Homo sapiens: one gene and its partners. The protein of the gene in region 4 purifies or fractionates together with the protein of the main gene of each other region. This does not show direct contact. Each region holds a gene or a part of one and is shown on either strand. Other genes may lie near its edges. The genes, in order: LAPTM4B, SLC9A1, TTYH3 and SLCO6A1.

Region 1 (7,028 bases), on a different chromosome or scaffold from region 4:
CTTCACCACCTGGCCCCATCCTACATTTTTGGTTCTATCCTCTAACATTTCCTTTTATACCCCCTGACCCTGGCGTTCCAGCCACATTGAACTTGCTGTCTTGAGGAGATGTCCTTGTCTCAGTGGCATTGCTCATACTTGGAATTGTTCTTTTCCACACCTCTCAGGCTCCAAATCTTCATCTTTTGAGTTCCTGTTCAAATGCTCCCATCTCTGTTGCAGGTCCCTGCAACCCCTGACTGTAACTCTCCTTAACTTCCATGATTCTTTCTCGGAGCTCTTGTCACATTCATTGCTTTATGCTTTTTGTTTTTTGGGTACATGATGTATTTAACTTCATGTTCTGAGTCCTAGGGAGTTCTTCCTAAGCACTTAGCAAATATGTGTTGTAGGCAATTAGTAGCTATATATGATCAGTAGACTCCACGGGGGAATAATAAGCGGATTAAGAGTTGACAGGTCCCTAGGGACTGAGAGTGCGGGGAAAGCACAGGCGTAAAGCAGGTGTCTTAACACTGGCTTTAGAAGATCTAGAAAACTAGTAACCAAGAGCTTTTAACATGGTTCTTGTTAAGATGTGAAGAGGTAAGATAACTAATTTGAGTGGCTATTGTATGCCAGTCACCGGTCTAGGTATTTTATGTATATTCACTCATTTGAACTCTGGCCAGATGACATTCTTCCCTTCTGTAATATTACCCCTTGACCTCTTTTTTTTTTTTTTTTTTTTTTTTTTTGGAGATGGAGTTTTCGCTTTTGTTGCCCAGGCTAGAGTGCAACGATGCAATCTCGGCTCACGGTAACCTCCGCCTCCCGGGTTCAAGCAATTCTCCTGCCTCAGCTTCCGGAGTAGCTGGGATTACAGGCATGCACCACCATGCCCGGCTAATTTTGTATTTTTAGTGGAGACGGGGTTTCTTCATGTTGGTCAGGCTCATCTTAAACTCCTGACTTATGGTGATCTGCCCGCCTTGGCCTCCCAAAGTGCTAGGATTACAGGCATGAGCCACTGTGCCCAGCCCCGTTGACTTCTTGTTACACTTAGAATAAAATACAAAGTCAGGTGGTGGCTCGCGCATTTAATCCCAGGACTTCGGGAGGCCGGGGCAGGAGGATCACTTGAGCCTGAGAGTTCAAGACCAGTCTGGGCAACATAGTGACACACCCCATCTCTAATTAAAAAAAACAAAACAAGACTCCATAAGTAGCCCTACGGGACCCCAGACTCACACTGTACGACTTCCTCACCTTTCCATCTTCTCTGACCAGCTCCTTACCTCTGCTCCCTCCTCTAAAGCTTTTTGCCCATGAATCCCAAATTTATGTTTTTTCATTTCAGCTTTAAAACCCTACCCTGTTATGATAACAATAATGGAGTACATTGCCCTTGTGTGGTTCTTCATACTTTTTTTTTTTTTTTTGAGATGGAGTTTCGCTCTTGTTGCCCAGGCTGGAGTGCAATGGTGCCATCTCAGCTCACTGCCATCTCCGCCCCCCACTGGGTTCAAGCGATTCTCCTGCCTTGGCCTCCGGAGCAGCTGGGATTACAGGCACACACTAACATGTCCAGCTAATTTTTCTATTTTTAGCAGAGATGGGGTTTCACCACGTTGGCCAAACTGGTCTCAAACTCCTGACCTCAGGTGATCCATCTGCCTCGGCCTCCTAAAGTGCTAGGATTACAGGCCACCATGCCCAGCTCTTCATAATTTTTCAAAGCACATTCTTCTTATTTCGTTTGATCCTATTTCAGTCCACAATTTTCCACATACCTTTTCTCAAAAATAAGAGTATAGAAGAGTTGGGTGCAGTGGCTCACACCTGTAATCCCAGCACTTTGGGAGTCTGAGGCAGGCGGATCACTTGAGACCAGCCTGGCTAATATGGTGAAACGCTGTCTCTAATAAAAATACAAAAAATTAGCCAGGTGTGGTGGCAGGTGTCTGTAATCGCAGCTACAGGCTCCTACTGAGGCGGGAGAATCACTTGAACCTGGGTGGTGGAGGTTGCGGTGAGCCGAGCTTGCGCCACTGCACTCCAGCCTGGGCGACAGTGCGAAACTCCATCTCAAAAAAAAAAAAAAAAAAGTATAGAGGGATTGAAATGCCAAGAAAACTTGACAGTTTATCAAATAACATCTTTGCCATAAATCTTAATGCCAGTTGTGGGACTGGCCTGTGGCTCCTTTAAGCCTTGGAGTTGTAACAGAAAGTTTTCTTCAGATAGTTTTGTTAATCACACTGTTTAAAATGTGCTATGAAATTTCTTGGATCTTTGGAGAGAAACAAGATACTGTTATAATAATTACTGTGGAGATGTCACTGGAAAGGGGATCCAGACCCCAAGAGAGGGTTCTTGGACCTCGTGCAAGAAATAATTCAGATTGAGTCCATAGAGTAAAGTGAGTGTAAGTTTATTAAGTAAAGAAACAAAAGAATGGTTACTCCATAGGCAGAGCAGTAGCTTGGACTGCTCGACTGATAATACTATAATTATTTATTCATTATATGCTAAACAAGGGGTGGATTATTCATGAGTTTTCCAGGAAAGGGGTGGGCAATTCCCGGAAATGAGAGTTCCTCCCCATTTCAGGCCATATAGGGTAACTACCTGACGTTGCCATGGCATTTGTAAATTGTCATGGCGCTGGTGGGAGTGTCTTTTAGCATGCATGCTAATGTATTATAACTAGTGCATAATGAGAAATAAGGACAGCCAGAGCTCACTTTTGTCACCATCTTGGTTTTGATGGGTTTTGGCCGGCGTCTTTACCATCACCTGTTTTATCGGCATGGTCTTTGCGACCTGTACCTTGCACCGACCTCCTATCTCATCCTGTGACTTAGAAGGCCTAACCTCCTGGAAGTGCAGCCCAGTGGGTCTTAGCCACATTTTACCAAGCCCCTGTTCATAATGGAGTCGCTTTGGTTCAGATGCCTTTGACGGAGAAGGTAACTTTTCACTATATATTCTTTGTACAGTTCAGGTGTTTGGTTAAACACATGCTTGTAGTATCTGTTTAAATTAGTTATATGTATATGTATACTCTGGGAAGTGGCTCTTCTCATTATTACAATTTTTTTCGAAAAGCAATCAGCTTTTATTTGACAATTTGGAAAATACAGGAAGAAAAAAAGTTATTCCGGCCAGGCACGGTGCCTCACGCCTATAATCCTAGCACTTTGGGAGGCCGAGGCGGGTGGATCACGAGATCAGGAGTTCAAGACCAGCCTGACCAAGACGGTGAAACCCCATCTCTACTAAAAATACAAAAATTAGCCGGGTGTGGTGGCAGGCACTTGTAACCCCAGCTACTCGAGAGGCTGAGGCAGGAGAATCGCTTGAACCTGGCAGGTGGAGGTTGTAGTGAGCCGAGATCGTGCCACTACACTCCAGCCTGGGTGACAGAGTGAGACTCCGTCTCAAAAAAAAAAGAAAAAAAGTTACTTCGAATCCTACAATAATCCTGAAATAACCAATTGGGATTGTCATTTAAAAATGAACTTTTTTTTTTCTTCCCCTGAGACAGGGTCTCACTCTTTCACCCAGGCTGGAGGGCAGTGGCACGATCTCAGCTCACTGGAACCTCTGCCTCCCTGGTTGAAGTGATTCTCCTGCCTCAGCCTCCTGAATAGCTGGGATTACAGGCATCCACCACCATGCCCAACTAATTTGCATTTTAAGAAATAGGGTTTCACCATGTTGGCCAGGCTGGTCTCGAACTCCTAATCTCAAGTAATCCACCCACCTTGGCTTCCCAAAGTGGTGGGATTACAGGTGTGAGCCACCGTGCCGGGCCAAAAATAAACTCTTGAATGGATGTTCTGTAAAACATTTACACTTCCTTTAAACAGGTATTTCCAAGTATGTGGATTTTTGTTTATTTGGTTTTGAGGGAAGGTCTTACTATGTTGCTCAGGTTGGAGTGCAGTGGCGCATCAGCTCACTGTAGCCTCAAACTCCTGGGCTCAGGCGATCCTCCCACCTCAGCCTCCTGAGTAGCTGGGACTACAGGCATGCACCACTGTGCCTGGCTCATTTTCTTGTTTGTTGAGATGGGGTCTCACTGTGTTGCCCAGGCTTGTCTTGAACTCCTGGGCTCAACTGATCTTCCCACCTCAGCCTCCCAAAGTGCTGGGATTACAGACATGAGCCACTGTGTTCAACCCAAATATGATTTTTGTGGTAGGATATGCCATTAGTTAGTGTTGTTAGTAAGAGGCTTTTCTCTGTGTATCTTCACTCCATTTGAGAAGAGTAAAACATAGAACTGTGCCATAAGTTTCTGAACTTAGAATAGTAAAGAAGTAACAAGCCAGTCTTGGCCTGGCCCAGTGATGCGCACCTGTAGGCCCAGCTACTTGGAAGGCAGAGGTGGGAGGATTGCTTGAGCCCAGGAGTTTGAGGCCAGCCTGGGCAATATAGACACCTTGTCTCTCAGCAGACAACAACCCAGTCTTAGCTGGTGCCTCACTTAAACTCTGCAATCCTTGCTACCCCAGCCCCATCAAAGTTAATATGTGTGTGTATTGTCCAGCAGTGACAGGAAGAATAAAGGAAATAGAAATGAAGAGGTAGAATGATCAGGATTTTGCAGTTGGTTGAGTGTGCAGGATAAAGATGGTAAACTCAGATGATCAAGTTTCGTATATGGACAGGAGACTTGTAGAGGTTAGGTTTTGGAACCTAAATTCCTGGATTCAAATCCCATCTCTACAGCTTGGTAGTTGTTTGTTCCTGGGCAGTGTTTTTTAACCTCTGAGCCTCAGTTTGCTATGTATAACATGGGAATAATTTAGTACCCACTTCGTTAGGTTATTGCAGGGCTTAAGAGAGATTCCACATAAAGCACTTAGCATAGTGCCTGAATGTTTTTCATTAATTATTAATAGCGAGGCCATTTTTTAAATTAGAGAACAAATAAGGAGGGCAGAAGTGGGAGATGTTAAAGAAGGTGATTGTCATTTAGAGGAGCTGAGTTTAAAGTAGCCAAGGGCAGTACTCAGAAGACAGGACTACTGGCCTGGCCTGGCCTGGCCTGGCCTGGAAAGGGTTATTGCAGAAGGATGATCCTGGATCCACTATGTAGCTTTGCATTCATTCTCTGAAACTGCTTCCTAGATGGCTTCAAAGCTCTCAAAGCTCCACTAGTTTGAACCTGTAAAATGTTTGATTAACTGAGACAACTTGGGTTGCTTACCTTTAGCTCTAGAGTGTAGCTGACTCACTGGAAAGTTTTTGTGCTTTTTCAACCACTGGCGCCAGGGCTGATGCCTGTGTTTGTGTGTGTTGTTCACTGCTCTATGGTGCCTGGGCCAGGGGGAATGAGGTAAAATCCTGCTGTTGTCTTCACTCCAAGCCTTGTGCACTTGGCTGCAACTGAATGGGCTGGCAGCATTTCTGCCTTGGGAATGTTTATCTGCTCCCTCCATGGGTGGGGCTTAGTGTTGAGAGTCAAGCCACTGAAGAAGTTGCCTGTGGCCAGCCTGACTCCATGTGGTCAGTGTAATTTTCTATTATAAGGATTGCATCCTGGGGTTACTTAAATTCTTTTTTTTTTTTTTTTTTCTTGTTGCAGATCATCAATGCTGTGGTACTGTTGATTTTATTGAGTGCCCTGGCTGATCCGGATCAGTATAACTTTTCAAGTTCTGAACTGGGAGGTGACTTTGAGTTCATGGATGATGCCAGTAAGTAGTAGATATTTGGGTATTTTCAAGGGCAGGGAATCTGACTGCCAGCACTTCCTATTAAATTACAAATATAGACTCGTGAGTTCATTTGAGCTGATATATAACTTGTCATTGCAAATCAACGAATATTTGTGTGCGTCTAACATTCTGTCTTCTAGGTGCAAGAGTCTAAATAAGATCTATTTTCATCTTATGTTAACTTACCCACTTAAAAATGATTGCATTATCATAGACTTTCTACCCTGGGCCTTTTGGCCTTTTTTGAGAGGAAGGGGTATAAATGCCAGGAAGGAAGGTGAAAAGGCTTGTGCTTATCTCCTTGTGTCTTCTATTATGTTTCAGTATTTATTTTTATTCTAGGAGTGATCCTTTTCCATTCTAGAAATGATGTTGCAGATTATTTGGGGGAATTTAGGGCCTTTTCCCAGTGAATGGAAATATGTACAGGGATGTGGATGTGGGGTAAGCAGGGAGGAAGCTAGGCTCCCAGCTTGAAGATCACTGCAGCCTCATCATTTTATAATCATTATGCCGAGTCCATGCCAAAGGAGAGGAGTAGTGCTGTGCATAATCTCCAGCAGAAGATAGTACAGATTTATTTCTCATTGGCTTCGGAGAACTTCAAGTGAGTTTTTCTTAAAAAGTGTTGGAGCAAAGTAAGAGAGGAGAGAGTGGCTCAACATGCAGTTTTAGAGATCGGAAGCATTCGAAAGACATGGTGAGGGCTCTTTGTTTCTCCAAGTAAGAAAAAGCTGTTCAGTGGTTTTAACTAAATGCATGAACTGATATATGCATTTAAGATCCCTTTTGCTGCTGAGTAGGGTACTGGGTGTGTGAGCACAGAGCCTGGGAGAGTGGTATTGGGGATACCACCTAGGCTGCACTGGGGATAGAGAACAGGGAAGGATTTGGCAACTTGCTGTTTTGGGCAGCGAAGGAGACGGAGGAATCAAAGATGACTTCTGCTTTCCAGTTTTAGGAGATGACCTGCATCTTAACTGAGCTGAGAAAGTCCGGAGTCAGGAGGTGGGAACAGACCTGGGGGAGAAAAATAGACTTTAATTTCAGTAACTAGCTGAGCACAGTTGTTTGGAATTGATATGGTTTGGCTGTGTCCCCACCCAAATCTCGAATTGTATCTCCTAGAATTCCCCTGTATTGTGGGAGGGACCCAGGGGGAGGTAATTGAATTGTGGGAGCTGCTCTTTCCCTTGCTATTCTTGTGATAGTGAGTAAGTCTCATGAGATTGAGGCCGAGGCTGGCAGATCAGCTGAGGCCAGGAGTTCGAGACCAGCCTGGCCAAGGTGACAATACCTCATCTCTACTAAAAATAG
Region 2 (4,845 bases), on a different chromosome or scaffold from region 4:
CCTTCTCCCTGTGCCAGTGCCCAGGGGCTCCCTCTGCCCCAGGAGGCCGCCAGGGTCTAGCCATAGGAAGGTGTGGTGTGAGCAGCTGGGAGCCTGAGGAGGGGGCATCATGCCATCTCTGCCTCCATTTGAAACCTATCCCAGGCATAGGTCCCAGGTGGGATTAGAGAAGGGGGCTCAGCCGGACACAGGCAAGGCTTCGAGATACCCAGAGTCAGGGCCGCTGGGTTCGATGAGTGGAGTGTGGGCGCCACCTCCTGGCTGCTCATGGAACCACAGGGCTGGACCCAGCAGGGCTGCAGCTACGGGAGGGAGTGGGGCTAGTCAGAGGTCTTGGTAGGGAAGGCGCCCCACAGCGAGGCTTGACTTGGCCCTGGGCCCCTTTCAGTTCCTGGACCACCTTCTGACAGGCATCGAAGACATCTGTGGCCACTACGGTCACCACCACTGGAAGGACAAGTAGGTGGCAGGCCTGGTGGGCAGGCAGGGAGGGGCAGGCAAGGGTCTCCTGGGCCTGGGCATCTCCCCACTCCTGGAAGCTGGCGCCATCCGTCTCCCTCCTCCTCCCACCAGGCTCAACCGGTTTAATAAGAAATATGTGAAGAAGTGTCTGATAGCTGGCGAGCGCTCCAAGGAGCCCCAGCTCATTGCCTTCTACCACAAGATGGAGATGAAGCAGGCCATCGAGCTGGTGGAGAGCGGGGGCATGGGCAAGATCCCCTCTGCCGTCTCCACCGTCTCCATGCAGTGAGTGCTGGGGCAACCAGGCAGCTTCTGCTCCCACACACCGGCCCCTCAAGCCCGGTTGGAGGTGGCCACCTGGGGGGCGGGGTCTTCTGTTGTCCTGTTGGGGCGGACAAGAGAGCTGTGGGCTCGCACCAAGGACCTGAGGCTTTGGCGCCCACCTGGGTCATCCCTAGGGTGACTTCCTTCTGGCCAAACCTGGGAGGCACCAGGATCCCAAGAATCTTGGGGACCTAACCGATGCCCTATTGCCCCAGGAACATCCACCCCAAGTCCCTGCCTTCCGAGCGCATCCTGCCAGCACTGTCCAAGGACAAGGAGGAGGAGATCCGCAAAATCCTGAGGAACAACTTGCAGAAGACCAGGCAGCGGGTGAGGGCCTGCTCCCCAGCCCGACCCCCAGGGTACAGGAGCCCTTCAGCCCCTCTCTACGGCAGCCCTGCCCTGCCCGTGCCCCTCGGCACCCACCCCAGGACTGGCCCGGCCTCCAGCACTGCCCCCACCCCTCCATGAGCAGAGCCTTCCGGGGCCCGCACTGCCCTGACGCTGTCCCTCCCACAGCTGCGGTCCTACAACAGACACACGCTGGTGGCAGACCCCTACGAGGAAGCCTGGAACCAGATGCTGCTCCGGAGGCAGAAGGCCCGGCAGCTGGAGCAGAAGGTAGCCTCTGCCTTCCTCTGGGAATCTGTATCCCACCCCACTCGCCCAAGCTCCGCCACAGCCTCTAAGGAAATGTACCCATTCTAGGAACAGGGTTTGGCTTTCGAGGGGCTTTTAGCAGTGTAAGGGCATGGAGAGCCATGAGTTCTAAGCAAGGGATTGGCGTGGGGTTGTGGGGCATGGCCTGGGTTAGGGCAGTGGCAGGGGACAGAGGAATGGGTGGATTTAAGGCTGAGCAGTGTAGGTGTATTCAGGGAGGCTGTGACAGGAGCCTGGGATGAGCCCTTAGGAGCTCCTGAGGGGCCAGTACGGGTGCCCACACAGGCACAAGGGAGGGGGAGCAAGCGCCCTGCATATACGAAAGGTGGGGTGTGCACTGGCCGGGTTCTGTCCTGAGGGGCTCCCTCTGCCCAGCTGCCTGTGCTCACCCCGTCTGTCCTCTCTGTCAGATCAACAACTACCTGACGGTGCCAGCCCACAAGCTGGACTCACCCACCATGTCTCGGGCCCGCATCGGCTCAGGTAAGGGCCTGGCGAGGGGCCTCAGGACTGGGCACTCTGAGCTGCCACCTCCTGAGGATGGGGCTCCACAGGAACAGTCCTCAGCCACTGGGAGGACAGGCCTGGCCCTCGCTGACCTCAGGATCCCCTCCCAAGCCATGAGCTGCTTCTACGTCAGGGGCCATCCCTAGGGAGAGAGACGTTCCGGGCGAGGACTGTGTGGGGAGCTGGGAGAGCCACGGTGCCTGGCAGGAAGGCAGGGTATCTGCCCCATCGAGACCCCCAACACGTGTGGGGAACGTGAGGGCAGGGCCCCAGGGCAGACTGACTCAGGGAGGAGCCCCAGGCCTTGGCCTGTGGAGGGACACCTCTGGGAGCCCCTGTCAAAGGAGAGGGCCACAGTCTGAGGAAGAGAAGCTGTGGGGTGGAAGGTCGCAGAGGCCTGCTTCTGAGGCCTGTTGGGACCGGGACGGCTGTGCTCATGAGAAGGCCTGAAGGAGGCACTGACGCGGCCGAGTGGCACGTGCTGGGCCGGGCTCCAGAGCGGAACCCAGCTTGTGCCTTGCTCTTGGTCCCCAGACCCACTGGCCTATGAGCCGAAGGAGGACCTGCCTGTCATCACCATCGACCCGGCTTCCCCGCAGTCACCCGAGTCTGTGGACCTGGTGAATGAAGAGCTGAAGGGCAAAGTCTTAGGGTTGAGCCGGGATCCTGCAAAGGTGGCTGAGGAGGACGAGGACGACGATGGGGGCATCATGATGCGGAGCAAGGAGACTTCGTCCCCAGGAACCGACGATGTCTTCACCCCCGCGCCCAGTGACAGCCCCAGCTCCCAGAGGATACAGCGCTGCCTCAGTGACCCAGGCCCACACCCTGAGCCTGGGGAGGGAGAACCGTTCTTCCCCAAGGGGCAGTAACACCAGGGCCAGCAGGCAGCGCCTGTCCCCTCACAGACTCTTCCACCAGAGCAGGGGCTGCTGGGGGCTCCCCTTGCCCTTCCTGACCCGGATTGGCCCTGCCCCTCCCCCTACCGCATGGCAGCTGGGCCCACAGCCCCCACCCCAGCACAGCTCCTCCCCTGCCGCCTCCCGGGAAGCATCCTCCCCACCAGAGCTGCCTCCCCAATCCATTTGGCAGAACTGCTGGGGCTGGTGAGGCCGGCCCTGCCCCTCCCTAGATCCAGGCTTCTCCCGGACCTGGACTAGGGCCTCGGAGGCTCCTCCCTCTGCCTCATCCTCCTCCTCATTCAGACCAATCTTAGTTTCTAACCAAAGAGTCTCTGGCTCAGCTGTGGTCCCACCCAGGAAGGGAGGGAGCTGAGGCCTCCCTTGAGTAGGCCCTGCTTTATCAGGGGACAAACCAGGGGTACCAGGCACATGGCTGGGGGAGGGACTGCTGACCCACCAAGGTCTCACACTCCTCCTGCCAGCTCTGTCACCCTGGCCACCACCCAACCTGTCCTTACTCAGAGCTGCGGGCTGAGGGCATCTCTGAGTGTCTCTGCCTGGAGCAGGGGTGGTTTCTACGGTGACAGTGACGTGACTCAGAGCTTTTCGAACTGTGCTCCCACGGGGACCACTGGGCCCCTCAGGGGAAGCTGCTAGGGGAAGGACTGGCCGTGGCTCCAGAATGTGCTGCCTTTTTAAGTTTTGTTTGTTCACACTCCTATATATGATTGTTTGCACAGAGGGCGCTCCTGTTTTTAAAACATTTTGAAAACCCCTGGCTGAACAGTGCTCTGCCTCTAACTCCCTCCTCACACTCCAGAATTACCCTTCCTCATCTGTGCCTGTCTGTCCAACCCCTCCCCCACGTCTCTCTGCCTGCTGGGCTCTTAACTGTTGCTCGAAGACTGTGACATCAGAAGTAACTCCCACTCCTAATCAAGAGTCTCTCCAGCCTCACAGATGCTGGCCTCTTGGCACCTGCCTAGCTCTTGGGCCTGACCTCCAGTCCTGCTGGCCTGCTCTTACTTCCCCCACCCTGGGTTTGGCCCCTGGAACCTTTCCCTTGTGTGTACCACACCCTGCCTGCTGTGGAGCCCATTGTGGAGGCGGTGGGGGGGAGAAGGCCTCCCCTGAGGATCCCCTGTCCCCTGGGGCTGGTGGATTGGGCAGAATCCTGGGCCCCCAGAGACCTTTGCCCACACACACTCCTTCCCCTTGTCCCTGGGGCACTCCCCCAGGATTGTGCAATAGTCAGAGTGTCCCTTTTTGCAGGGGACTGGGCCATGGGTCCTCGGCCCATCTGTCCATCCTCCTCTCCATGCAAGTGCTGTTTGGGCAGGAGTCACCATGCAAGGGTGACATCGACAACCACGTACCAAGCCACCGCAGCTGCTGCCACTCTGCTGCCTGTACAGAAGAAACTGAATCTTTTTCATATTCTAATAAATCAATGTGAGTTTTTAATAGAGTCAAGGGCTGCTTTCTGGGGACGAGGGTCTTTAGGAGGGAGGGTGGCCTGAGGGCGTGAAGTACTTAGTTCAAAGGCTGGCACAGAAACACTTCATGGCTGTCAGCTGCTGGGGTGGTTGTTCCCACATGCCAGGCACTGAGATACCACAATGAGCTAAGCAGGACGTGCCCTGCCCCGCGGGGGAGAGCGGCACTAACCAGTGCCCAGTGTTTGTGCAAGAGGTGAAAAAGAGGCAGAGGGGAGGGAGGGACGGCGAGGAGGACCCTCCTGAGTCCCGAGTGAGTGAGATCCCAGGAGGGGACTGAAGAAGGAGCCAAGGCTTCCGGGTGGAAAAGGACCCAGAAAGTTCCCAAACATTGTAACTGGGAGCTGTGCCCACGAACACTGGGACCTGAGAAAAGGCCGGGTGGCTGGGTCAGAGTGACAGGGGAGGCAAGGATGGGGCCGCGTGCTCCATGGTTAAGATTTTGCTCTTAACCGTGGGAAGACCAAAAGGGCAGTGGGAAGTCACTGAAGCCC
Region 3 (7,028 bases), on a different chromosome or scaffold from region 4:
GGTATCTCAGTCGAAGATTATGGGCTGGAGGGAGACCTGGGGGCTTCCCAGATGGGGCGAGGCTGGCTCGAGGTCCCCCGTCCAAATGAAGTGCTGACCATCTGCGGTGCGTGCCCCCCAGGACCCCCTCCTCCGCGTCCAGGAGGTGCTGAATGGCACGGAGGTGAACCTGCAGCACCTCACCGCCCTGGTGGACTGCCGCAGCCTGCATCTGGTGAGAGGCAGGGCCTGGGACAGGGCCATGGCAGCTTGTAGGGTGGGAACAGGGGAGCAGCTGTTCGGGAGGATGGGGACCCTCAGCAGACAGTGGGTCCTCAGCCCTGCCTCTGGGGGGCGGTCCAGGCCGCCGTGGCTGGGCTGAAGGTCTCACGCTGCCCCCTCCACCCTCCCTGTCTCTGGATCCTGCCATCTCATCCCACGGCCTCAGGACTACGTGCAAGCGCTGACCGGCTTCTGCTATGACGGCGTGGAGGGCCTCATCTACCTGGCCCTCTTCTCCTTCGTCACAGCCCTCATGTTCAGCTCCATCGTCTGCAGCGTCCCGCACACCTGGCAGCAAAAGAGGTGAGGGGCCCTGGGGGGTCGCAGGAGCTTGCCCCAGGCCACATGGCATGCGGGACACTTCAGGGGCATGCCTTTATGGACACCCATGTGCCAGTCCCAGAGGTGAGGGACAGACACCTCCTCACCTCGTGACCCTCCCTAGGCCTCTCTAGTGTCTCTGAGGCTGCCGGTTCCCAGGTGAGCATCATCATTTCACAGGAGGAAAACAGCCTGGAGGAGCTCCCGGCCTGGGTTGCAGGAGTCCAGAGCAGACAGTGGGGAGGACTGGGGTCTCTTGCCTCCCCAGACTGGCTCTGTGCCCTATGCCCTGAGAGCTGGCCTCAGACTGTCTACTCTGTACCGCCTCCCAGGCAGGTGTCCCCCACCATGGGGTGCAGGTGCACGACGCTGTGGGGGAAAGGTTGGTGGTCCACTGTGCAGGCTTAGCTCTGCCAGGGGTAGTCCAGGTAGCTGTGGCCTCCAGCTAAGTGACCAGGATAGAAGCCAGCTCCCCTGGAGCCACTATGTCCTTACCTTTGAAGTGGGGGTCCTGGTGGCCCCTGCCTGAGTCTTCCCATTCAGTACTGGTTTGAGTGGTGTATTGGGGTGACAGGCTCCTTCCCTTGCCAGAGCTCCTATGGCTTATCTTTGAGACCTTCACCTCCTCTCCCACTTGGACTGTGGCTGCTGCTTGGTGGCCCAATATGGATGGCAGGTAGCTCAGCTCAGATTTCTTCCTTTTGTCTGGATTTCTATTATTTTCCTTTGTGATGGTGATGGTGATGCTGCCAACGATGATGGTGATGGTGATGGTGGTAATGATGGTGATGGTGATGGTGGTGATGATGGTGATGGTGGTGGTGATGGTGATGATGGTGATGATGGTGGTGGTGGTTGTGGTGGTGGTGATGGTGATGGTGATGGTGATGTCATTGTTGATGTTGGTGATGGTGATGGCATTGGTGATGTCGGTGATGGTGGTGGTGATGGTGTCAGTGGTAACAAAGATGGTAGACATAGGGGAGTAGATAAGAGCATAGCCCTGGACCCACAGGGCTAGATTCAGATTCTGTCTCTATCCTTGCTTATTGTATGATGTGGGCAAGTCACTTAACCACCCTGGGCCTCAATTTCCCTCATTGTAAGAGGACACAGCTGGAGTGTCGAGTGGGCACTTGAGCCACTGCACGTGAGGGGCTTGGCTGGTGGCCCCTGCGCAGCCAAAAGCTACCACTGTCCTGTTTCTGAAGTGCTTGCTGCCAGGCAGCCCACCCTGTGTCCCATGTGGGACCTCCTGGGGCGTGGAGGCTCCAAAGTGCCAGAGGCTCGCGCAGAGTGGAAGACAGAAAGCCAGAGGGCAGCAGGGCTAGGAAAACTGGCTCAGGCCACCCAAGGGTGCAGTTGGATCCTGCAGAGCCAAGAGGCACCCCAGCCTCCTGTGCCTTCAAGAGGCACCCTGGCCTCCTGCACTCTCCCAGGAGGGGCCCTGCACTCTTCTTTCAGTAAGCAGCCAGCCAGCCTTGCCATGCACAGGCCGCAGTACAGGGCCTGGCACTCGGGTGACCACACAGGTCTCATAGCACCCCACCTCGCAAGGGCAGGGCTGGATGCAGAGCCAGGTGACCTGCCCACAGTCCCACATGGAGTGTGCACACGGCCGAGCCAGAACTGGAACCAGGAGTGTCTGTCTGCACCAGAACTGACCCCCATGGGTCTGTGGCCAGCTCCTTCCTGCTGGGGCCTGAGCCCGTGCTGCGTGTCCCTCCTCACAGAGGCCCTGATGAGGACGGGGAGGAGGAGGCCGCTCCAGGGCCGCGGCAGGCGCACGACAGCCTCTACCGCGTCCACATGCCCAGCCTGTACAGCTGTGGCAGCAGCTACGGCAGTGAGACCAGCATCCCGGCCGCGGCCCACACCGTCAGCAACGCCCCGGTCACTGAGTACATGTGAGTTGACGTGGGCCTAGTGGGGCCAGCGGACACGTCAGCTGCGGCTGAGAGCGCGGATCTGGGCTGGGGCTAGCTCGAGGCAAGGGGCTGGAGAAGGGGCGGCCTCCGGGCTGGGCAGCCCTGGCCTTGAGTGCCTCCTGCCCCAGGTGAACACGGTCCAGGGGCCATGGAGAGGCCACATGGTCACATGGAGGTTCCGTGTCCAGGGCACAAGGACTCTGTGGCCAAGGACCTCAGGGCCCAGCTACATGGTGAACAGGTGGCTCGGAGGGAGTGGACTCTGGCTGGGCCAAGGTGGGCAGGGGTCTCTCTGTGGGCCCTCTCTGAGCCCTTTGTTACTGTGCTGGGTTCGTGGGACCCCCAGTGAGAATGGATGTGCCCATCTGGGCACAGCGGGCCTACCCATGGGCCCCCCGACCTGCAGCTGGGACTGCATGGCCAGCAGGCACTCACAGCCTCTCTCCCCTCATGCCTCAGGAGCCAGAACGCTAATTTCCAGAACCCCCGCTGTGAGAACACCCCACTCATTGGGCGCGAGTCCCCGCCGCCCTCAGTAAGTCTTGGGGCAGGAGGGTGGATGGGGGGCTGCTCAGCCTTGGGGGTCCGCTGTTCCACTGCGTCGGTGGGCTGGTGTGGCATGTGCAGCCAGTGTGAGCTCTGGGGGCAGCTGTGAGCTGCCACCACCGGGGTCCCAGGTGACCCTTCCCAGCTGGGACCTCTCTGCAGGACGCCTGACCTGAGTTGACGGGGCTGGGTGGGACTGCCAGCTCCTCCCCGCTGGCCTTGGAGTGTCCTGGGGCCAGAGTGGGCAGCCTCGGGACCAGCCGCCCAGGGGGTCAGCTCTCAGGCCCTTTCCTGGGGAAGGAGAGTGGGTGGGCGGGCAGATGTGGCCCCACTGTGGCCCTCCCAGCTTGTAGGCACGGCCCTGCACCAGGCCCTCCCTGGCCTCTTACCTGCCATTCTCTGTGCCTTCTGGACCTGTGGGGTGCCACCGCTCCAGTTCCCAGGGGCCCCGGCCCTGCCTCCTTTTCTTTTTCTTCCTTGAGTCTTTTCCTGAGTGTCCACACATGGCTGTTTCAGCCCAGGCCTGGTGTCCCCTTTGACTTCCCGCGTAAGACACAGGCAGGAGGGGACAGGGTGCCGAAGAGAAGGAGTTGGTGGCGAAGCTGGGGGACCGGGGAGGGGGCGGCCGGGCTACCAGGACAGGGCTTGGGAGGCCGAAGGCTGCCTTGCTCAGAAATCCCCATCCCGGGGCCACTGTCATGGTCCCCTGTAGCACAGAGCTGGGCCTGGGGGGCCTGGGAGGGGCCGGGCCTGTGAGGTTCAGGCCACACAGGTGCAGGCCCAGTCCCGCTCGGCTGCCCTCGTCCTCGCCATCACACGGCCCACAGCCCACTCCTGGCCCCACACCCTGGCGTTGAGGCCACACTCTCTCTCTCTCTCTCTCTTGCACCCCACCCACCCCGGGCCCTCCTAGCGCTATCTGGCTGCCCTGGACTCTGGCAGCCACGCGGGCTGGCAGTTTAAGCCCATGGACAGTGCCCGAACGCTGTGGTAGCTGTTCCCTCAGAGCGACAGGTACTGACCCACCGGTCCCCCATCCCGCACGGCCACCCGCCTGCGCCTCCCGCCTCCACCCTGCACTCACTGCCGCCCTCCCGTCGGCACTGAGCTGGGGCTCCATCTGTCCGGCTCCTGTTGGCAGGGCCAGCTCTGAGTGCCACGGCTCAGCCAGAGACTTCTAATGCCGGCTCTGGGCCCGCCAGCCTCACAGTGGGGTTGGCAAGTCCCCTTCCAGGCTCCCCCTGCCCAGTTGCTTGGCCTCTGGGGACTCTGCCACAGCTCCAAGTGGCCCCAGCCCCTTCTGTCACCTCCCAGTGAGGAATCCATGCACCCAGACCCCTGTATGTGCCCGGGCCCCTGGGCATGTGGCCAGCAGGCCCTGCCCTGGAGGCACCAACTGCGTGTCAGGGGCGTGCACACGGACAGGCACGTGCCGGCGAGCACGTGAGCTTCTCCCGCTGGCCCCACGGTGGTGCGGGTGCCTGCTTGGGCTCCTTCAGGGGTCTGCGCGTCTGCCCCGTCCCGTCCAGTCCCGCCCCGTCCCGCCCCCATCCCCTCCCCTTGTGCTGCATGTCAGTGGAATGACGAGGCTCCGGGCCGTGGCTCCTCCCCCCACCCCCTCCGTGGCGTCCCCACAGGCTGCTCGAAACCTTCTTGGTGTCCCAGGAGGGCCCTCGGGGACCCGGGGAGCTCTGTGCCTCTGAGTCTGGGGACTATGGGGATGGGCCTGGGGCCCTGGGGTTCTGAAGCCCTCCTGGGATGGGAGCCAGCCTGCCAGGTCTCCTCACTGCCGCCGGCCCCTGACACGTGCCAGGCCTGTGGGTCCTTTGGCCTCAGCACATGCCTCGCACATGTGGGTTTCTCTGTGAGCACACACATGCATTCTCTTGCACACACACGTGCACTCAAGACCTTCACACTCCTGCCTGGACGAGGGCACCCACGAGGTGCAGGCCAGCTGCAGAGCCAGGCACAGGACAGCGCCCCCTGCAGCCGCCTCTGTTCCTAAGTCCAAGACCCCCAGGAGCCCACAGTTGGGTCCCCCACGGGAGGGGGGGCTGCATTGCTCCAGCCTCCTGTGTGGCTTAAGGGGCCCTCCTTCCATGGCGTGAAGGGGCAGAGTAGCCCGGGGGATGTCCTCAGGCTGGGGCCTCCGTACTCCTGCATGCTGTGGCCTGGCTGTAGGTGGACCCGGCCCTGAGCCCGGAGGAGGCCTTGGCCCGGCCCTGGAGGGTGGCTGGTTTGTGTCCTTCAGGTCCTGGGTGCGTAAGGTGCAGGTAGGGCCTTGGAGCTGTGGCTCCTGGGGGTGGCAGAACTCTGCCTGGCCCAATGCCCAAATGCCGCTGGTGTGGGCATGGGAGGCTGTGTGTACGCCCCTCCTCAGAGGAGACATCCCCTGTCCTGAGCCTGGAGAGTTCGGGGGCTGCCCCTCCCTCAGCCTCAGCCAGACCTAGAGCGCAGGGGCCCCCAGCCAGCGGCCCCTCCTTAGCCCCTCCCTATAGGCTCTGTCAGGGCACCCTGTACTGTCCCATTCTGCCCCCAGGGCTGTTGGCTCAGCCAAGTGAGGACCACGCGGAAGGCGCCCCTGGCTGCGTGCGCCATGCAGGGGCCCTGCTGATGCCTCCCCCTTGTCTCCCTCCAGTACACCTCCAGCATGAGAGCCAAATACCTCGCCACGAGCCAGCCTCGCCCTGACTCCAGCGGCAGCCACTAGACCGCGCCCGGCAGCCACCCACCCCACGTGCCAACTTCCCCTCCCCGTGCCAGCACTGCCGCTTCCACCTGGGCCACCCACCGGACCCTCGCACGCCGTGCCAGGCCTGCCCCAGACGCGTCTGCAGGCCGCTTGCCCTCCTGTCCCCTCCCCGCAGGGGCACAGTGGAGACGCAGGGGCTCTGGGCCCGTACCGCCAACTCGGGTCACACCTGAACGCTGCTGCCAGCCGATGCCCCAGCCCTGCACGCCACCCACTATCCCGGCACGCTCCCTCTGCAGATGGTCGCCGCACCTACAAGCCCTGGCCGCACCCAACCTGTGTTGTTGCCGCCCGGCCCTTCCCTCCACAGCTCTCCTTCCTCCCGCCCGGCACTTCTGTGGACCCCTTCTTAGTTCACAGGCACGGCTGGGGCCGCTCTGTGCTGGCGCCTGCTGGCCACTGAGGGACAGGGACACGTGCCACCTGCTCATCTCTGCCCTGAGGTCACCCCGTGGTCCCTCCACGTGCCCATCTCTCTGCAGTGCCCTCCTCGCCTGTGCAGCCCGCCCACCCACAGGCTCACCCCTCCTGCCGGCTGCCAGAGGCCCCCTCCAGCAGGGCCTCTCTCCGTTGCCCCAGCTTCACTCTCTCCCTCAGCACCTGCCCTGCTGGAGGCCCCAGCCCTCCGTGGACAGCAGGGGCCACGTGGAGCCCGGGCCGCTCACCCGCCACCCAGTGCTGGCCGCCTTCTTGGTGCCAAACCCCCTTCCCCCACCCAGAGACTGGGCAGCTGTGTCTGGTTCGTTCTTTGCACTAACCACATTTGTCATCTCTAGGGCAGGCTGGGGCTGCGGGCTGAGGGGGACCGCTGGCACCCCCCTTCCCTCCCTTCTTGGTTCCATTTCCATCCATGACAGGTACAGCATCCCAGGAGCCCGGCCTGAGGGGCTGGACCCGAGCCGGCTGTGAACATCCCTCAGCCCCTGCTGTCCCCCCTTGGGACTAACCACTAACCTCACCCCCAAACTCCACGGGTGCCCCTAGCTGGCCCAGAGCCGGCAGTGTGAGCCCAAGTCCGGGCTGGAGCCGAGGCCGGAGCAGCTGTCTGGGAGTCAAGGCTGCAGTAGCGTTTCTTCATGGGGTGCTCCAGGGGGTGCCACAGACCGACAGGCAGCCCAAGGGCCTGGACACCCCTCCCCAGGCAGGTGCTGCCCCAGGAGGACTGTCCTCGGGAATGAACCTCCCGCGGGCTTTGGACTGAGGTCCCTGTGGCCTCG
Region 4 (8,016 bases):
GAATTTCTCCTTAGAAAATGGGATTTTCTTTTCTATCACATTGTCAGGCTGCAAATTTTCCAAACTTTTATGCTCTGTTTCCCTTTTAAAACTGAATGCCTTTAACAGCACCCAAGTCACCTCTTGAATGCTTTGCTGCTTAGAAATTTCTTCTGCCAGATACTCTAAATCATCTCTCTTAAGTTCAAAGTTCCACAAACCTCTAGGGCAGGGGCAAAATGTCACTACTCTCTTTGCTAAAACATAACAAGAGTCACCTTTGCTCTAGTCCCCAACAAGTTCTTCATCTCCATCTGAGAGCACCTCAGCCTGGATTTCATTGTCCATATCATTATCAGAATTTTTGTCAAAGCCATTCAACAAGTCTCTAGGGAGTTCCAAACTTTCCCATGTTTTCCTGTCTTCTTCTGAGCCCTCCAAACTGTTCCAACCTCTGCCTGTTACCCAGTTCCAAAGTTGCTTCCACATTTTCGGATACCTTTTCACCAGCGCCCCACTCTACTGGTACCAATTTACTGTATTAGTTTGTTTTCACACTGGTGATAAAGACATACTGAGACTGGGTAATTTACAAAAGAAAGAGGTTTAATGGACTTACAGTTCCACATGGCTGGGGAGGCCTCATAATCATGGCAGAATGTGAAAGGCACTTCTTACGGGGTGGTGGCAAGAGAGAATGAGAGAAGCAAAAGCAGAACCCTTATAAAACCATTAGATCTTGTGAGACTTATTCACTACTATGAGAACAGTAAGGGGGAAACTGCCTCACCAGGTCCCTCCCATGACACATGAGAATTCAAGATGAGATTTGGGTGGGGACACAGCCAAACCATATCATGTTTATTTCAATGTTTACACATTTCTTAATTGTAAGATTCCAGGCCTCCCAGTTTCTTCTGACTGTCTCTGTTTCCATAAGGTCTCAGGTAGGGAACCATTTCTGGGGATCTAAATATTATTCCACTTTTGATTCTAGCTCTCTCCCCATCAGGGTAATTTGTTGTCCCTGAAGCTACTTCATGAAGCTTTACAACTTATTGTCACAGCACTTGATTTTCTTCCTAAGTGTCTTAAACATTACCTCTAATGGGCCAGGTTTGGTGGCTCACACCTCTAATCCCAGCACTTTGGGAGACCAAGGCAGGCGGATCACAAGTTCAGGAGATTGAGACCATCCTGGCTAACATTATGAAACCCTGTCTCTACTAAAAATACAAAACAAAAACAAAAACAAAAACAAAAAACAAGTCAGGTGTGGTGGCACGCACCTGTAGTCCCAGCTACTCAGGAGGCTGAGGCAAGAGAATCACTTGAACCCAGGAGACAGAGGTTCCAGTGAGCCGAGATTGGGCCATTGCACCCCAGCCTTGGTGACAGAGTGTGACTCTATCTCAAAAAAAAAGAAAGGAAAAGAAAAATACCTCTAATGTACCTCACAACAAACATCAACTTAGTCTGCTATGCCTCCTGCAAACATTATTACTTATCTGAATTCTACCAGTTCATTACAGATAATCTGAAATGTTGCCATCTCTTTACAGCCTTTTGTGAAAACATTTGCTGATAGGTTTTCCCCCTCAATTGGTAAATCTCTACTCACCAATGAGGGTCTGACTTGTAGGGAGGTATATATAACAGTAGTTACTTTTTAATATGGTGGCTCATTATTCTAATAATTTGAAACATAATTATCTTTGTTTAAGCATATGCCAAAAATGAGCTAGATACTTTTAATATATTGCTTCTAATCTTCACAGTAATTTTTCAAATGGGATAATTATTATCCTCATTTTACAAATGAAGAATTAAGGGTCAGAATGTTTAAAAGACTTACCCCAAATCACATATCAACTAAGCAAAGTCTATACTTTATTCATTACATATAATGCTTCTTTCTTTCATGTCCCCACCCGTTTCCTCCAGTTGCCTTTGTTTTCTTCTGGACTTAAAAAATTATGTAGCATTTTACTTATCTAGCAGTTAGACTTCTAATCTCAGTAAACTGAAAAGATTCACAGAAAGCAAAAAGTAAAATAAAAAGTCTGTAGTTATCAAGAAAAATAGTACTTATAGCACCCAGATATCTAACATTAGTTTCAACATAGGACCTGTAAATCTTATATTGTGAAGGAAAGATGTAACAAGCGTCACTGCAATATTATAGGTGGTAGCATATTAGAAATTGTAGCAAAATGTCACTACTGTCTATCAGGGAGGAAGTAAAAATCATTTACCAGGAAAGCAAAGCAAATGAGAAACCATTTACTAAAAGAGAAAACAGTTCTATATCTCTTAATAGTTGAGGTCATCTTATATTAAGCTACATTATTATAATTTGCACCATCATGCGGTTTATCTACTTCATAGGCTCATTTGCTAAAAGGATTATATGAATTATCATCAATATGTTACTTTAGTGAGTAGTTCTTCCTACATGTTTAGAGCATTTAGCGGAAATAGATATTACATAGAGAATATAAAAGAGCACCTCATAAACATTCATTGTTTAATTTAAGCTGGTTTCTTGAATATCTTAAGCACTTGGATTGCTGAACTCATCAGGGAATGCTTTAGTTGGTAGCTATATTTCATTGCCTGTATCGAAATTTTATACTATAATTACTTGCTAACTTTTAGGAAACATGTAATTAATATGCATACATTTTAAGATTCAAAGATAATTTTTTTCACATTTAATATTTCTGGAATTGAGATAGTTTTATAACTCTGATCGACATCATCTATAAAAAGATTTTTAAAATCAGTGATCTGTCTCAGGAAAATACATACAACCATGTTAATTTCAGTATGGTCAGAGCAAAAATTGAAAAACAATCCAATACCCATCAATATAAAAGAAAGTGGTTAAATAAATTATAGTAAATCCATACCATGAAATTCTATCATGCATGGTACTATCATAAAGGTAGCCAAAATGAATTAAGTGTGATGTTTTCTAAGGTTAAATGAGCAAGGTAAACAAATATCCACAATTTCTACTTAAATACTTAGAGTACAATTTTTGTAGCTGGATGACAGTGTCCTACATTATGTAATAAAAATATGCTGATCAAAGAATGTTGAAGGTATGTTTGTCAGTGTTTCCATTCCACCCTTAGCTTTCAGCAGGTCCTGTATGCTTGCACCACAGGTAGGGTTTCCCTCTGCTCTCTTGACTCACCTATATTGGTGGAGTGCTGTTTTTTCACTCATGCAAAACTCCTCATCGAGGCAGAAGCTAGGTTGTCCCTGGTCCAGCCTCAATTTTGGACATGCCCTGAATGCCTGAACCTCAAGTTCGGGCTTTGCCTTGTTTCAGTGGGGTTCTTGGGAAGAAATGAAGTTCCTGCTCCTCTCTTTTTGGCAAACTGTTTTATTTCTATCCCTCTCTCTGGTGGCAGTCAATCTTAAGGTAGGCCATAGACAGGATGGTTTGCTGCTCCTCCTTCAGTGGGTTTTTTCTTCTGTAACAGATAACCTTTGTCACAGACTGGAGGGCATGAGAGTTTCCTGCCTCAATCCCAGAGGCAAAACTGCTTTTGCTTTGGATAGCAGAAGGGTCAGTGGAGGTAGGAGGGAAAGTATTCCTTCTTCTTTCTCAGGGACAGTCTACCACGACCAAATCTTTTCCCTTAAACAAAGATCTGGTAAACGGGTATAGACTCCCCTTATTTCTTAGGCTTCTAGGGTTTCTAAACTGTTAAGCTTCCCTTGGCCTTTAAGAATTCATTAAAATTTCAAGTGTTTCTATCTTCCTTTATGACTGCTTTTTCTTCTTTCTGTGCTCTTTGAAAAGTAAAATGGTTTGTGTGTCCCATCCTTTTTCTGAAGGGCTTATTGTCCTTTAGAATCAATTTGCCTAGTTTCTTTACAGCAGCCATAGCTATAGAAATGTAGCTCTCTGATAAAAAAAGTATTTTTTCATACTATCCAGCTTTGTTGTTGTTGTTATTATTGGAGTGGGGGTTACATTTTATTTGGCTTTCTACATTCTGGGTAGAAGTAAAATTCCCAGTACCATTCATTTTTAATGGAGTTGTCTTTTCCGCTCTGCACCCAAGCAGTACCTATTCTGGTTTTGAAGCACAAGAATAAGAGCCCACCACTCCCCACTGTCTTTCCTACCTCCTAGGATTCCTGTGGATTTTTTTTTTTTTTTACATTTATTATCATGAAGCAGTGTAGAGTCGAAATCAGGCTTCAGGTCAGTGGTTCTTAATTCTTCTTTCCCTGGTCTACCAGGCCAGCACTATTGGAGCAGCACAAAATCTTGTTGAAGAGCTAAATTGTTTTTGGCAACACAATGTCTAATCCATAGGAGAGAAGATAGTGCCATCTCTCCTGGAAAGTCACCCTCCACATATACATGGCCTAAAGAGCTTATATATCAGCCTAAGAAAAGAAAACCAATAAGAAGTTGCATTTTCATTAAAAAAAGAAAGCCACGTTTCATATCCTACTACTCTTCGCTTACATTCTTTCTCTTCAATAAAGTTTTTATACCTGAAAAAATAATCCTCTGGTTCTCGTGCCCTCATTTAAGGTGGAAAATGATAATCTTTTCTGTTCTTGAGTTGGGATAGAGTTTGTAGGGCAATAATTTCTATGTGTAAAACACTTCACTTAAGGACATTCAGTCGGACATTGATTTCTGATTTTTGTGCGTCCAAATCTTTTACTGTGGTGAAACTGTTTTTGTTGTTGTTGTTGTTGTTGTTGTTTTAATGTCTTCTGCTCTCTCCTGGTCCTTCAACAATTTTCAGGTTGTTTCTAGTGAGATTTTTCAGTTGGAAAGCCACCATAATAAAGTAAGTCTGGGGAAACTGGGGACGGACAGTTCCACTTTTTTTTTTTTTCCATGCTTCTGGTGCTCTTTGTCTGTGTTAGCAGTTATCAAAATCTAGTTTTAGCTTTTTTTTTTCCTTCCGCACGTGGAAGAAAAGAAGGAAAACAGCTTTGGAAGTTCTCAACCGTCAACCCCCGGGAGGACGTTTGCCTCCTGCCCTAGGAGAAACGTTCGCTCTGGAGGCTTGGGCGGCAAGAGCCCCTTGTGGCCACCGAGTCCTCCGACGCCCTCGCCAGGCTGGCCTTTGGGTTGGCCCAGGCAGGACGGGCAGCCGAGAGCACTCGGGCCGCGTCGCCAGGAGCCGCCCAGGGTGAGCCATGTTCGTAGGCGTCGCCCGGCACTCTGGGAGCCAGGATGAAGTCTCAAGGGGAGTAGAGCCGCTGGAGGCCGCGCGGGCCCAGCCTGCTAAGGACAGGAGGGCCAAGGGAACCCCGAAGTCCTCGAAGCCCGGGAAAAAACACCGGTATCTGAGACTACTTCCAGAGGCCTTGATAAGGTTCGGCGGTTTCCGAAAAAGGAAAAAAGCCAAGTCCTCAGTTTCCAAGAAGCCGGGAGAAGTGGATGACAGTTTGGAGCAGCCCTGTGGTTTGGGCTGCTTAGTCAGCACCTGCTGTGAGTGTTGCAATAACATTCGCTGCTTCATGATTTTCTACTGCATCCTGCTCATATGTCAAGGTGAGCCTGAAGGAGGCGGTTTGTTGTGGCGAGGGCAGCTGGGGCCGCACTGGCGGAGGCGGGAGAGGGAGTATGGCGGAGGACGCCCTGGGGTGGCCCAGCATGCCCTGGGGTGGCCCAGCCTGAGGCTGCTTTCTGACTTCTCAAGGCGTTGTCGGATCAAAGTTTAGCCACCCAGTGGGTTTACCTTGCCCGCTGCCTAGACAGAGAAGATTTATCAAGGAAGGGGAATTGCCATGGAGAAAGAGTAAGGCACGCAGAGCCGGCTGTGCGGGAGACCAGAGTTTTTTTATTGCTCAAATCAGTCTCTCCAGCATTCTGGGATGGGATCAGAGTTTTTAAAGATAATTTGGCTGGCAGGGGCTCGGGAACTGGGGAGTGCTGATTGGTCAGGTTGGTCAGGGAATCATAGTGTGGTTGAAGTCAGGTTTTCTTGCCATCTTCTGTTCCTGGGTGGGATGGCAGAACTAGTTGACCCAGATTACTTGTCTGGGTGGTGTCAGCTCAACCATCCAGTGAAGGGTCTGCAAAATATCTCAAGCACCGAGCTTCGGTTTTACAATAATGATGTTTTCCCCAGGAGCAATTTGCGGAGGTTCAGACTCTTGGCGCCAGAGGCTGCATGACCCCTAACCTTAATTTCTAATCTTGTAGATAATTTGTTAGTCCTGCAAAGGCAGATTAGTCCCCAGGCAACAAGGGGATCTTTTCAGAAAAGAGCTATTATCAATTTTGTTTCAGAGTCAAACTGTGAAATGAATTCCTTCCCAAAGTTAGTTCGGCCTAAGCCCAGGAATGAACAAGGAGTTTAAAGGTTAGAAGCAAGAAGGAGTGGATTAGGTCCAATCTGTTTCACTGTCATAATTTCCTCATTTATAATTTTTGCAAAGGTAGTTTCAAAAACAGGTTAACCGGCTGGCACGAACTTGGGTGCCTCACCTCCTCCAGAACCTGACTGGCACAGTCCATCCTACACATTGTGGGTGATGAGGGCCTGGCTTCCAGATAGCCAGCTGCAGAGAGGATATTGTTGAGTCATTTATCGTTGTTTGGTCACCAACTCTGAGAAGTTCTGGGTTGAATCACCTGGAGTTTAAAATAAAGTTGAAAACGGTGTCTATGATCATTAAATGGTTTCTGATCCTGCTCACAAATTTGCGACATTCTGGCTCAGCCACTCTCTATTGGATCTTTTTTCCTCATCTATGAATTTATACAAGAGAATCTAAACTTGAGGTTGTTATTTTTGCCCACATATTTTGAAGAAGGTGAATTTGAACACTTTAGACCTGGCATGCCTCTCTACTTGACCACAGCTCTCACCTCCCCTATTACATCAAGATTCTTTACTAGCCTCTTTTCAATGATGGCATTGGAATTTGACAAACCTGTTCTCTTTTTTGCTCTAAGATGCTAGGTCTAAATAAGTGCAATCAAAAGGCTGTATGTTGTAAGACCCATACTAGAAAAACTAATAAATTGTCATCGAGTTTGTCTTGAGATTATCAAAGAAGTTTCTTAGAAGAACAAGCATTTGAACTATGCCTTTATAGTAGGTACAGTTTTGAAAGCCAGAATGAAATTAAAGAGTATTTGTTGAATAGGGAAGCGAGTTAATGAATCGTGTTTTGTTTTAGAAAGGCTTGTTTCACAATAGTGAATGACAAGTTTGGCTGGATAATGGTTTCATCTAGGCACCATAAGGGGGTAATTATATTTATATTATCCATCATGTCTCCTTAGTGACTGAGGTATAGAAGACACTCAGTAAATATGTATTCGATGCATGAATGAATTTTAAAAGAAAGGAAAAGACAGATTATGCCTAGATTATGAAGGCCTTTAAATACCAGACATAATTCTGAAAGGATATAAAAGGTACTTACTTCCCACTATGTTGGGTCATGAGTAAGGTGCTTTGCAAGTATTATCTAGTTTAGTGTAATCCCCTTATTAGGTGGGTAATGAGGAGCCATTGAAGGTTTCTGAACAAGTGATGGACAGTATATGGTTTTTAGCTCTGTATCTTAACTGACTTCATACAGGTAGTTAGCTCAGTTTGGGTATAATATTGAGTCTTCCATTCATAAAAATGGTATCTCTCTTCATTTTTCTATTTGTCAATTGATCTATTTATTATTTTTACATTGTAAACAATTTTAAAATCATTTCAAACATAAAGAAGGGATACAAAGGCAGTACAAACAATACCTGCTTCCTGTGAGTCAACCAGATTCTTCATCTGTTAACATTTTACCACATTTGTTCCTTCGCCTTCTCTTTCCCTATACATGCCCAGTTTTTCAGACATGGTGCACCACTACTGCTAACTACTCCAGTGTGCAACTTCCCAAAGTGAGACACTCTCTTACATAACCATCGTTCCTCACAGGCAGGAATATCAGTACAATACTATCATCCAATTATGAACTGGTGGTCCCATCCAGATGTTGCCAGCTGTCTCAATATTGTCTCCTTTTCATTTTGGGGCCAAA

What was found.
Region 1: the proteins of SLCO6A1 (region 4) and LAPTM4B purify together in Homo sapiens (affinity purification with mass spectrometry; 2 studies listed by BioGRID and IntAct, with this or other methods). This does not show direct contact.
Region 2: the proteins of SLCO6A1 (region 4) and SLC9A1 purify together in Homo sapiens (affinity purification with mass spectrometry; 2 studies listed by BioGRID and IntAct, with this or other methods). This does not show direct contact.
Region 3: the proteins of SLCO6A1 (region 4) and TTYH3 purify together in Homo sapiens (affinity purification with mass spectrometry; 2 studies listed by BioGRID and IntAct, with this or other methods). This does not show direct contact.

Annotation. Positions count from the first base shown.
Region 1 is NC_000008.11:97,799,775-97,806,802, forward strand, and holds part of LAPTM4B (lysosomal-associated transmembrane protein 4B), read left to right. Parts: intron 1-5,578; coding exon 5,579-5,690; intron 5,691-7,028. UniProt on the Homo sapiens protein: Required for optimal lysosomal function. Blocks EGF-stimulated EGFR intraluminal sorting and degradation.
Region 2 is NC_000001.11:27,098,287-27,103,131, reverse strand, and holds the end of SLC9A1 (sodium/hydrogen exchanger 1), read left to right. Parts: intron 1-388; coding exon 389-459; intron 460-573; coding exon 574-747; intron 748-1,001; coding exon 1,002-1,116; intron 1,117-1,305; coding exon 1,306-1,407; intron 1,408-1,856; coding exon 1,857-1,929; intron 1,930-2,487; coding exon 2,488-2,825; 3' UTR 2,826-4,323; downstream 4,324-4,845. UniProt on the Homo sapiens protein: Electroneutral Na(+) /H(+) antiporter that extrudes Na(+) in exchange for external protons driven by the inward sodium ion chemical gradient, protecting cells from acidification that occurs from metabolism.
Region 3 is NC_000007.14:2,655,971-2,662,998, forward strand, and holds part of TTYH3 (protein tweety homolog 3), read left to right. Parts: intron 1-121; coding exon 122-214; intron 215-427; coding exon 428-564; intron 565-2,315; coding exon 2,316-2,489; intron 2,490-2,969; coding exon 2,970-3,045; intron 3,046-5,697; coding exon 5,698-5,769; 3' UTR 5,770-7,028. UniProt on the Homo sapiens protein: Calcium-independent, swelling-dependent volume-regulated anion channel (VRAC-swell) which plays a pivotal role in the process of regulatory volume decrease (RVD) in the brain through the efflux of anions like chloride and organic osmolytes like glutamate.
Region 4 is NC_000005.10:102,495,992-102,504,007, reverse strand, and holds the start of SLCO6A1 (solute carrier organic anion transporter family member 6A1), read left to right. Parts: upstream 1-5,006; 5' UTR 5,007-5,163; coding exon 5,164-5,521; intron 5,522-8,016.